Regions from separate parts of the Homo sapiens genome. Here region 2 is linked to region 1. Evidence: fine-mapped expression QTL. A gene starts in region 1. The other region holds a variant in brackets. All regions are shown on one strand. Distances are from middle to middle.

The links. PIP is the estimated chance that this variant, and not a neighbour inherited with it, causes the effect.
Region 2: its variant is the best candidate, but not a certain one, in a credible set for the expression of SUSD1 in whole blood (INTERVAL, PIP 0.79).

Annotation. Positions count from the first base shown.
Region 1 is chr9:112,172,654-112,178,030 of GRCh38, reverse strand. SUSD1 (sushi domain containing 1) reads left to right here and starts at 2,734. Exons shown (of 17, transcript NM_022486.5): 1 at 2,734-2,898. The coding sequence starts at 2,796. It also overlaps the pseudogene RPL29P20. RefSeq lists a silencer at 2,616-3,275.
Region 2 is chr9:112,142,281-112,147,657 of GRCh38, reverse strand. It overlaps SUSD1 (sushi domain containing 1), which reads left to right. Exons shown (of 17, transcript NM_022486.5): 4 at 4,035-4,187; 5 at 5,159-5,338. Among named protein-coding and RNA genes, the nearest start is that of SUSD1, 30 kb to the left of the region's middle. RefSeq lists an enhancer at 2,131-3,330. The variant G/A (reference allele first, on the strand shown) is at 2,048.

The DNA.
Region 1 (5,377 bases):
AAGTTGTTGATCTCAAAGGAGAACTAGCAAGATGTTAAGGTTCAAAGGAAAATCCAACATCAGGAATGATCACATGAATTTGCTAATAGGTGCCAAACTGGTTAACTAGTTAGTATCATATAGGACAAAATGAAATTAGTGGGTTTAACTTATTTATTTTCTGGCAGAAAGGACTGATCACTTATATTTCTCTTGGAAAACATTCATTTTCACTGCTATGGACATAAATCTTTTACATTATCATCAGTTTTCGGCAAGTTAACTTCTAGCCCTCTAGTGCTGCAAAATAGCCTAGTCAATAGGAAGTCCAGCGACGGTGCACCCAGCACCCCACTGAAAGGATACCCAGTAATCTCTTTTGCCCATTTCCAAGTTTTGGACAAATTTTCCTGACATTATCAATAAAAAATGTATATACATATATACTTAAGTTTATTTATTTTGCAAGGGGCCACAGTGGGGATGAAGTGGTATAGGCTGGTTAAAAATCTTAAGTGAATGGTATATTTGTTGAAACAATGACATGATTTCCAAGTTTGAAGTTTATGGAGAGCTGAACTTAAAAAATTTGTCTAAATAATAGAGACACACCGTCCATCTATTGCTCCCCAAACAGGTGCCTGTCTTTGTTGATCAAAAATAATTTTCAAGAAAGCCTGCTAAGAAAAGAGCTTGTGAGGCCAGATGCAGTGGCTCACTCCTGTAATCCCAGCACTTTGGGAGACCAAGGTGGGAGGATTGCTTGAGCCAAGGAGTTGGAGACCAGCCTGGGCAACATAGCCAGATCTTGTCTCTACAAAAAAAATTTTTTAAATGAGCCAGGCATGATGCTGCGCCCCTGTAGTCCCAGCTACTGGGAGGTTGAGGCTAGTGGACTACCTGAGCCCAAGAGGTTGAGGCTGTGGTGAGCTGTGCACTCCAGCTTGGGCAACAGAACAAGACCTTGTCTCCCCAAGAGGAAAAAAGAGCCTAGGAAGATGAGCTTTTTCTTTGTTTGTTTTTGTTTGTTTGTTTTTTTAAGAGAGGGGGTCTCACTGTATTGCCCACATGGGCCTTGAATTCCTGGACTCAAGCAATTCTCCTGCCCTTCAGCCTCTTTAGTAGCTGGGACTACAGGCATGCCACACTTCACCCAGCTTGAAGTTGATTTTTAACTACTTGTTAAGACTCCACAACTTTAGCCCTTATATGGGTGTGTTTGAAAGTGGTGAGATTTACGGCAGGCTCATGGCAGAGAGTAAACAAGTGAGGATATGGGGTGAAGTAGTGGGGTGCCTGCTCTCGGCTGCGCTCCCACAGACATCACAAGCTCAAAGCCTTCAAACCGGATCTTATTTATTTCCTTCTCCCCGACTAGTCATAAAACCTAGTGGATTCCACTCTTACACACTGCCCTCTTCACACTCATTTGTCAATGCCCAGCTGCAGGACACATCTATCTCTATCTCTATCTGTCTGTCTGTCTGTCTGTCTGTCTATCTATCTATCTATCTATCTATCTATCTATCTATCTATCTATCTATCTATCTGTCTATGGAGTCTCACTCTGTCGCCCAGTCCGGAGTGCAGTGGTGCGAGCTCGGCTCACTTCAACCTCCGCCTCCTGGGTTCAAGCAATTCTCTCGCCTCAGCTTTCCGAGTAGCTGGGATTACAGGTGCCTGCCACCGTGCCCACCTAATTTTTTTTTTTTCAGTAGAGACGGGGTTTCACCAAGTTGGCCAGGCTGGTATCGAGCTCCTGACCTCAAGTGATCCACCCGCCTCGACCTCCCAAAGTGTTGGGATTACAGGCGTGAGCCACCGCACCGGGCCAGGACATGTCTTCTATTGCCTGATTCCTGCAGCAACTCCGGGCTGGACTCTTTGCCTTCCACATCCCAACCCAACCCCAATCCCAATTCCACAGAACAGACAGAGATGTGTCAGTGATGAAGTCATTCACTGCTTGAAACTGTGACAGCTTCCCGGCGACCTCCATCACTTGGGTTAGGAGGGCTAACTTCCCTCTGCAGCTCAACGCCCCTCTCCAACCCTCTGCTCTCACTCTAGGTCCCCATTCCCCATTTCTACAACAAACTCCCGCTTAGATTCCTCCCCAACGTCCTTCTCATCCTTGGGTCTTGGTTTACTCCTTCCCTTGGGATGAGTACGGCTGTGATGGAGGTAGGGGCTGGCATCAGCGCGTCCCAAGCCGGGTGTCCTCAGAGCAGCGGGGACTGATGCCAGCCCCTCCCTCCATCACAGCCCTACTCTCTCTCACTCCCGGTGACCAGGTGTCACCTGGTCAAGTGTGTCGCCCCTGGGTGGCCTGGGTCTGCGTCTTCCGACCTCTCATCTGGGCCTTGCGCTGTGGTCACCTCATCCAGCTCCCTTTCACGTCCTGGAAGATTTCCGCCCCTTGCTCCCCTCACCCCTCTCCCCGGGGGTGCCTCCCTGAGCCCTCGAGTGGCTTGAATCCTCCGCAACATTTCCTCCCCAGCACTCTCCGGGGCTCTGCGTCCAGCTGTGTCATTATCCGATGAGTGTCTGTCCCCCTTTGCGAATGTGAGCGGCGAGAGGGCAGCAAGTGCGGAGCCAGAGACGGACGCGGAACGGGCGTGTCCTAAGCCCAGGCCCCGACAAGAGGAAGGACCCGCGCTCTGCGGCCTCCCGGGGACCCCGCAGCGCCCCCCGCTTCCCTCGGCGGCGCCGGAAGCCGCCGGCTGGTCCCCTCCCCGCGGCGCCTGTAGCCTTATCTCTGCACCCTGAGGGCCCCGGGAGGAGGCGCGGGCGCGCCGGGAGGGACCGGCGGCGGCATGGGCCGGGGGCCCTGGGATGCGGGCCCGTCTCGCCGCCTGCTGCCGCTGTTGCTGCTGCTCGGCCTGGCCCGCGGCGCCGCGGGAGCGCCGGGCCCCGACGGTGAGTGCGGGCTGGGACGGGCACGGGCGGCCGGCGGGGCCCCCGGCTGGGCCTCGAGGACTCTGGGCGCACGGACGCTTCCCCGCCCCTGGGCCGGGCCGGCGCGGTGCCGAGGCGTGGGGCGCAGGTGGGGCCCGCGCCGGCCGTTGGAGATCGGCAAGGAGGAGCTCAGAGAAGCGGGGGGCTCCCCGCCGGGCTTCCCTGCCCCCGCCCGACCCCGCGACGCCGGGGGACGCCGGTTTTAAGGCGGCCTGGCCGGGCCCCCAGGGACCTCCACTGCCCAGGAGGCGGGGTGGGGGCTGGGCGCGAGCGCGGACCCGGGCAGGGCGGCGCCCGGGGAAGGGCGGGGAGGCCAGGGCGTTCTGCGGCGCTGTCACGCTTCCGGCTCTGCGGTGGCTTTTGCATGACACATTTTTGACCCGAAGCAATTTTCTTACCACTTTTAATTTTTTCACGTTGTTAGAGAGCCGGATGCTAAATATGGTGAGAAAGACGCGTAAGGAAGAGTACAGGAGTGAAGCCATTAATTCACTCATTCATTCAACAGATGGCCCTTGAACAGCTTCCCTGTGCGCGATGAGGGCGGGCAGTGCGGGCCCTCGTGGAGCTCATTGTCTGGAGGATTTAGACCAGCAAATGTTCTATTTCCAAGCAATCGAGGGAGTTGTTTTTCCTCCTCTGCAAAATGCAGTGTTGAGCTGAGTAGGAATTACACAGAGGATTCAGACACGCAGGGGAGGTGACATTCATCCACATAACTGTAATACAAGGCAGAATGGCATGGGTGCCATGAGAAGGTGTGGGTGGTGAGGGCAGGGAAAGGGGAATCGGTGGTGACCCTTGAGCTGGGCCATCAATGATTGGTCATATTTGGATATGGGAAAATGTGAAAAAGGTATCCCAGCTCATAGCAGAAGGCACTGTCACCTCTCCACAAATGAGTGTAGAATGAATGAATTCCTTCAGAATTCAGGCCCGGGGGAGAAGGGAAGGAAGCACACGGAGGCACCAGAGGCAGAGGGCAGAGTGCCTTGATTGGCAGACCTAGGCCTTTGGACTTAGCTGTGCCTGGAAGCCACTGGAAGCCGTCTCAGGGAGTGACAAGAAAAGTGGGTCTAGCCAGTTCTAGGCGCTTCGGGAGCCACAGGTTACAGTGCAGACATGGCCAAATCCAAGCACCACACCACACACAACCAGTCCCGAAAATGGCACAGAAACGGCATCATGAAACCCGGATCACAAAGATACGAATCTTTTAAAGGGGTGGACCCCAAGTTCCTGACAAACATGCGGTTTGCCAAGAAGCACAATAAGAGGGGCCTAAAGAAGATGCAGGGCGACAGTGCCAAGGCCATGAGTGCACGTGCTGAGGCCTTGCCCTCATAAACCCCAAGGAGGTTAAGCCCAAGATTCCAAAGGGTGTCAGCTCTTGCCTACGTTGCCCACCTCAAGCTTGGGAAACGTGCTCGTGCCCGCATTGCCAAGGGGCTCAGGCTGTGCCAGCCAAAGACCAAGGTCAAGGATCAAACCAAGGCTCAGGCTGCAGCTCCAGCTTCAGTTCCAGCTCAGACTCCCGAAGGAGCTCAGGCCCCTACAAAGCCTTCAGAGTAGAGATCTGTGTCTGCCAACGTGAGGACAGAAGGATTGTCCCCCTTGGACTGCCATCTGCATGGGGCTGATGTCCTCCTTTGCTATTTGTATAAGTAAACTTGAGGCGGGGGAAAGAGGGTCTAAGGAACCCCCATCTTCCTTACTAAAACCAAACGCTGATCCTGAAGTGGAAGGAAATTTCCATGTGATGACATACAAGGAGACTTGTGGTTGAGAATCCTGCCTGCCGCCCCCACCCCCATTCTCTTTGGCTTGGGACTTTTACCATGCCTGATGGGTATTTCAATGGCTTGATCTTCTGGAGTGGCCATTTTTGTAATATTAGGTGCCCTGGTTAAGATTCCTTCCTTGGCTCTATCTCCGAGAACAGTGCGCATAGGACTTGCAGATGCTTGGCGTCTATTTCAGGATCTTCCTGTGATATCTCTAAGGTAGGAAACTGTCCAGTATGATCCCATTGAATTGTTAGACTAAGATGGCTGAACACAGCTAGTAGCTACGTAAGGTCATCTGTAACTAAAGGTTTTGGGGGTGAATTTGGGGAAACAGAAGTCAAGGCTTCCTGGTTGAGCCCCCTCTCCTTATCTAGACATTCTCCCTTCATGTTCAACCTTGGAGAACCTGGTTTTATGAAGGGCAGGTTTCCTGACAGTCGACAATGTAGGGAAAGACTGGAGGCTTGGACAAGCCCATTGAGGAAGTTGTTGCAATAGCTGGCCTGGAAGTTCTGAGGACTGGGCCCACAGTAATGACAGCAGAAACGGACTGAATGTAGACAGTAAGGTGGAAATGGACTGGAAGGAAGGATTTAATAACAGATATGAAGGTGCAAGGGAACAGAAGGGGAAAGATGACACTAAGGCTTGGG
Region 2 (5,377 bases), 30 kb after region 1:
AGCTGGGACTACAGGTGCGCACTGCCACGACTGGCTAATTTTTGTACTTTTAGGAGAGACGGGGTTTCACCATGTTGGCCAGGATGGTCTTGATCTCTTGACATTGTGATCTGCCTGCCTTGGCCTCCCAAAGTGCTAGGATTACAGGCGTGAGCCACTGTGACCCAGGCTGGAGTGCAGTGGCACAATCACGGCTCACTGCAACCTCTGCCTCCTGCGTTCAAGCGATTCCCCTGTGCTTCTCCTGTCTCAGCCTCCTGAGTAGCTGGGATTACAGGCACCCGCCACCATGCCCAGCTAATTTTTGTATTTTAGTAGAGACAGGGTTTCACCATGTTGGCCAGGCTTGTCTCGAAGTCCTGACCTCGGCTGATTCACCTGCCTCGGCCTCCCAAAGTGCTGGGATTACAGACGTGAGCCACCACGCCTGGCCTTTCATGCACTTCTTATATGACAAGACTGTGCTAGTGGAAGGGTGACGAGCAGACAGCTAATTTCAGTATAAAGTGTTAGTCATAGGTAAGCAAACAGCATTTACTGGAATCTAGGGGTCACTTATCTTGGCTGTGAGGAAGGAATCAGGGGAATCTTCTGGAGAATATGATCCCTGAAATTGTGTTTTCTAGGCTGTGGGAGTTTGCCAGGGAAAACTTACAACTGTATATTTATCAGTATGTTTATAGTTCCAAGAGATGAATTCAGCTTTTGAAAGTTATGAAGAAGGCTGGGCATGGTGACTCACGCCTGTATCCCCAGGACTTTGGGAGGCCAAGGCTGGAGGATCACTTCAGACCAGGAGTTCAAGACCAGCTTGGGCAACATAATGAGACTTCATCTTTACAAAAAATAAGAAAATTAGCTGGATGTGGTGGCTTGTGCCTGTTGTCCTAGCTACTTGGAAGGCTGAGGTGGGAGGATCGCTGGAGCCCAGGACTTTGAGGCTGCAGTGAGCCAAGGTTGTGCCATTGCACTCCAGCCTGGGTGACAGAGCGAGACTTTGTCTTAATTTTTTTTTTTTTTAAGTTAGGAAGAAGAATGAGGAGGAGGAAGAGTGAGAAGATTGGTGGGAACAGGAGGAGGGAAGAAGAGGGGAAGAGGAAAGAGAAAAAAATATTTTATGTAAGGGCCAAATAGGTGTCAGCCGAACTAGACCTAATCTGCCTGGAACTAAATCCAGATCTAGGCTCTACTTTTATTTATTCCATTCTTGCAATGATTGAATGACCTTCTCTTTTGTAAAAAATTGAGCTATAGTTTACATACCATCAAATTCACCCTTTTGATGTATACAACTCAGTGGTTTTTAGTATATTCACAAAGTTGTGCTAGCATCACCACTGTCTCATTTTGGAGCATTTTCATGCCCCCACCATGAAGACCATGTCCACTGGCAGCCATTCCCATGACCTTTCCTTGTGAGTTCTCCAGTTATCACTTTGTAAAAGCTGATGAATTGCTTTTCTTGATAATACTGTTTCTTTCAGAATCACAGTTGCCAGAGAAACATCAGCGGGCTTTAGCTGGGGCAGAGCTTAGCAAGTGTTGGGGTATCAGCAGTTAGTCACTGTTTGCCTGGAACCACAGGATGTGAATCCTAGTTCCTGGATTCCAAGGAATCCTGCATCCAGGTGTTTATTGTGCTTTGCAGAGTCAACATCAAGCTCAGGAGCTGGTTGCAGGTAGGCCTCTGAATGTCACCAATGTTAGAGGAGGAATGAATTGCTGGGGTTCTAGTGTGAGATGATTCCAGCCAGTCATGGAGAACAGGCAGATGTTCTGGCCCTTAGAACTGCCCCCTGAATGACTCCTGGGAATCATGGAAACCACCATGAGCCACAACCCAGGAGAAGAAGCTCTGTGGCACTTCTTGTGTGAGGGTGGTTTGACTTGGATGGGCTCCTTCAGCAATTGAATAGAATTACTGGTTCCCAAACAATAATTGGTGTGAGTGGAGAGGCGTTCATTGATCCAAGACCCAAAAGGAAAAAGAATAAAGAATATAAAAGTTCAAAAGGATTCTGAGGCAATTTTCTTTTATCTTTTGGGG[G/A]CTAAAATGTCATTTAAGAAAAAGAAATTATAGCCAGGTGCATTGGCTCATGCCTGTAATCCCAGCACTTTGGGAGCCAACTGGGTGGACAATTTGAGGTCGGGAGTTCGAGACCAGCCTGGCCAACATGGTGAAACCCTGTCTCTACAAAAAGACACACAAAAATTAGCCGGCGTGGTGGTACACACCTGTAGTCCCAGCTACTCAGGAGGCTGAGGCAGGAGAATCAGTTGAAGTCAGGAGGCAGCGGTTGCAATAAGCCAAGATCACACCATTGCACTCCAGCCTGGGCAACAGAGTGAGACTCTGTCTCAAAAAAAAAAAAAAAAAAAGGAAATTATGGTATTACTAGCTTTTTGAAATTTTTTTTTTAAAAAACAGACTTTCTTCAATCATGCTGCTTCCTGTCTTCTGCTCAATCCCTGATGTTTTTATGCCAATGTCCTAGGAATTTCAGTTAGGGTGCTTTTTTGTTTTCTCCAAGTGGAATTGAACTATGTGGCTCTGATGAAAATAGTATTATTATTATTTTTAGAGATGAGGGTCTTGCTGTGTTGCCCAGGCCGGCCTTGAACTCCCGGACTTAAAGCAATCCTCCTGCCTCAGCCTCTTGAGCAACTGGGACCATAGGCATGCCCAGGCATGCCCAGCTGATGGAATTCTTAAAGTTTTAAAGTCAGTTCTGAGGGAAAAAACTACTAACTGGAAGAGAGATTTCTTCTCCAGCCTCTGGCTTATTGGGCAGTTTTTACCCTATACCTGCTGCCTCTGATAGTCTTCAGTCAGGTGCAAAAAAATCTGCAAAAGGGCATGTCCTGTCCTTCCAGAAGGCTGTTTTAAGGCTGTCTCATTTTCATAAAATTAGTAAGACCTTTCCTAATTAAGTTACCACCTTATTACCTGCCACACCATCCTATACTCATGGGCTGGCATTTTCACTCTCCTGGAGATTGTTTTCCTTATTTAAAACATTAAAAATGTTGTTTATATTTTAAGTTAATTTTAAGACAGGTTCTCACTTCGTTCCCAGGCTGGTCTCAAACTCCTGGACTCAAGCAGTCCTCCCAAAGTGCCAGGATTACAGACATGAGCCACCGTGCCAGGCCTGTAAATTGTTTTCTATCTGAAGCCCTACTTTAGATGTTTTAGTATGAGGTTGGGACCATTCTTTTGTTATAATGATTGGGTATATTTATAGTGATTGGATATATTTATAGTGATTGGATATATTTATAGTGATTGGATATATTTATAGTGACTGGATATATTTTAGTGACTGGATATATTTATAGTGACTGGATTCTTTTAGTGATTGGATATATTTATAGTGATTGGATTTTTTAGTGATTGGATTTTCTTTTTTTTTTTCTTTGAGACGGGGTCTTGCTCTGTCACCCAGGCTGAGTGCAGTGGCGTGATCTCGGCTCACTGCAAGCTCCGCCTCCTAGGTTCAAGTGATTCTCCTGCCTCAGCCTCCTGAATAGCTGGGACTACAGGCATGTACCACCATGGCTGGCTAATTTTTGTATTTTTACTAGAGATGAGGTTTCACTATGTTGGCCAGGCTGGTCTCGAACTCCTGACCTCAAGTGATCCACATGCTTCGGCTTCCCAAAGTGCTGGGATTACAGGTGTGAGCCACCATGCCCGGTCAGGATATTTTTTAGTGATTGGATATATTTATGTTTTTGGTTCATTTTGTTGGGTGTCAGGGAGCCGGTGATGGTTATCAGCTTTTGTAAAATCCCAGAACACACTGACAAACATTTATTGAGCACTTGCTATGTTTTCAGTGCCTATGATATGAACGATATATGAGAAGAACCCATAAGGCATAAAATAAAATGTATGATACAATTGCAAACAAATGCATCTTTTTACAAGAGTAGCTTGAAAATGTGAAAAAATGGCTGTCACAATATCCTCTCCTTTTTTTTTTCTTTTTTCTGTTTTTATCTCCTTTTCTCTATTTGGATTGGGTCCCAAGACATAGATGAGTGTGAAGTTTCTGGCCTGTGCAGGCATGGAGGGCGATGCGTGAACACTCATGGGAGCTTTGAATGCTACTGTATGGATGGATACTTGCCAAGGAATGGACCTGAACCTTTCCACCCGACCACCGATGCCACATCATGCACAGGTGGGTTTCTGCCAAAAATTGCGGCATCTCAACGTGAAATTCTGTTGATGGTGACTTTCTTCTGCTCCAAGCCTGTGTTGGGGAGGCAGGTGGAGGTGATCTGATCCTTTGCACATTTTGTACAACCTATGACATAAAGCAAATAACAACAATCAAGTTACAGGGGGCCATGTTAAAAAAGCTAAAATTAGGCCAGGAGCAGTAGCTCTGTAATCTCAGCACTTTGGGAGGCCGAGGCTGGTGGATCACTTGAGGTCAGGAGTTCGAGACCAGCCTGGCCAACACGGTGAAACCCTATCTCTACTAAAAATAAAAAAAAATAGCCAGGTGTGGTGGTGGGCACCTGTAATCCCAGCTACTCAGGAGGCTGAGGCATGAGAATTTCTTGAACCCAGGAGACAGAGGTTGCAATGAGCCGAGATCATGCCATTGCACTCCAGCCTGGACAACAGAGTGAGATCTCTGTCTTAAAAAAAAAAAAAAAAAAAAAAAAAAAAAAAAAAAAAAAAGCTAAAATTCATAAACTTAAAGGATTTTTATTAGCAGTTAATAGATATTCCGATATTAACTACTATGTTAGATAGTAAATGCCAATGATTTGGTAAGGTCCCTGCATCTCAAAAGTGACCCTGAAAATAATCAAGGTACATATATCTTAAGGTATTTTGCAATTCAGATTTTTTATTTCACTGGACAAGGCTTCTCTTTAGTTAGTGTAAATTAGTGAGGGTTGATTGCTAAGTTATTTCAGCTTTGTGCATGTATAGATGCTTTACCTATGGAAGGCCAAAAGATTGAATAAAGACAATTGTTGGAAATGTTCCCAGAAGTCATGTGGGAATGAACCAGTGTACTTAAAATATGGCTCGGGGGTGTGTGTGTGTGAGGAATAGGGTAGAGGTGGAGAGAGATTGTGAATTTTGAAGATTTACATTCACGAGGTAATGAATTTGACATTAATTTATTTTCAGAAATAGACTGTGGTACCCCTCCTGAGGTTCCAGATGGCTATATCATAGGAAATTATACGTCTAGTCTGGGCAGCCAGGTTCGTTATGCTTGCAGAGAAGGATTCTTCAGTGTTCCAGAAGATACAGTTTCAAGCTGCACAGGCCTGGGCACATGGGAGTCCCCAAAATTACATTGCCAAGGTGAGTTTTCAAAAAATACAGGTTCCCAATTCATACCAC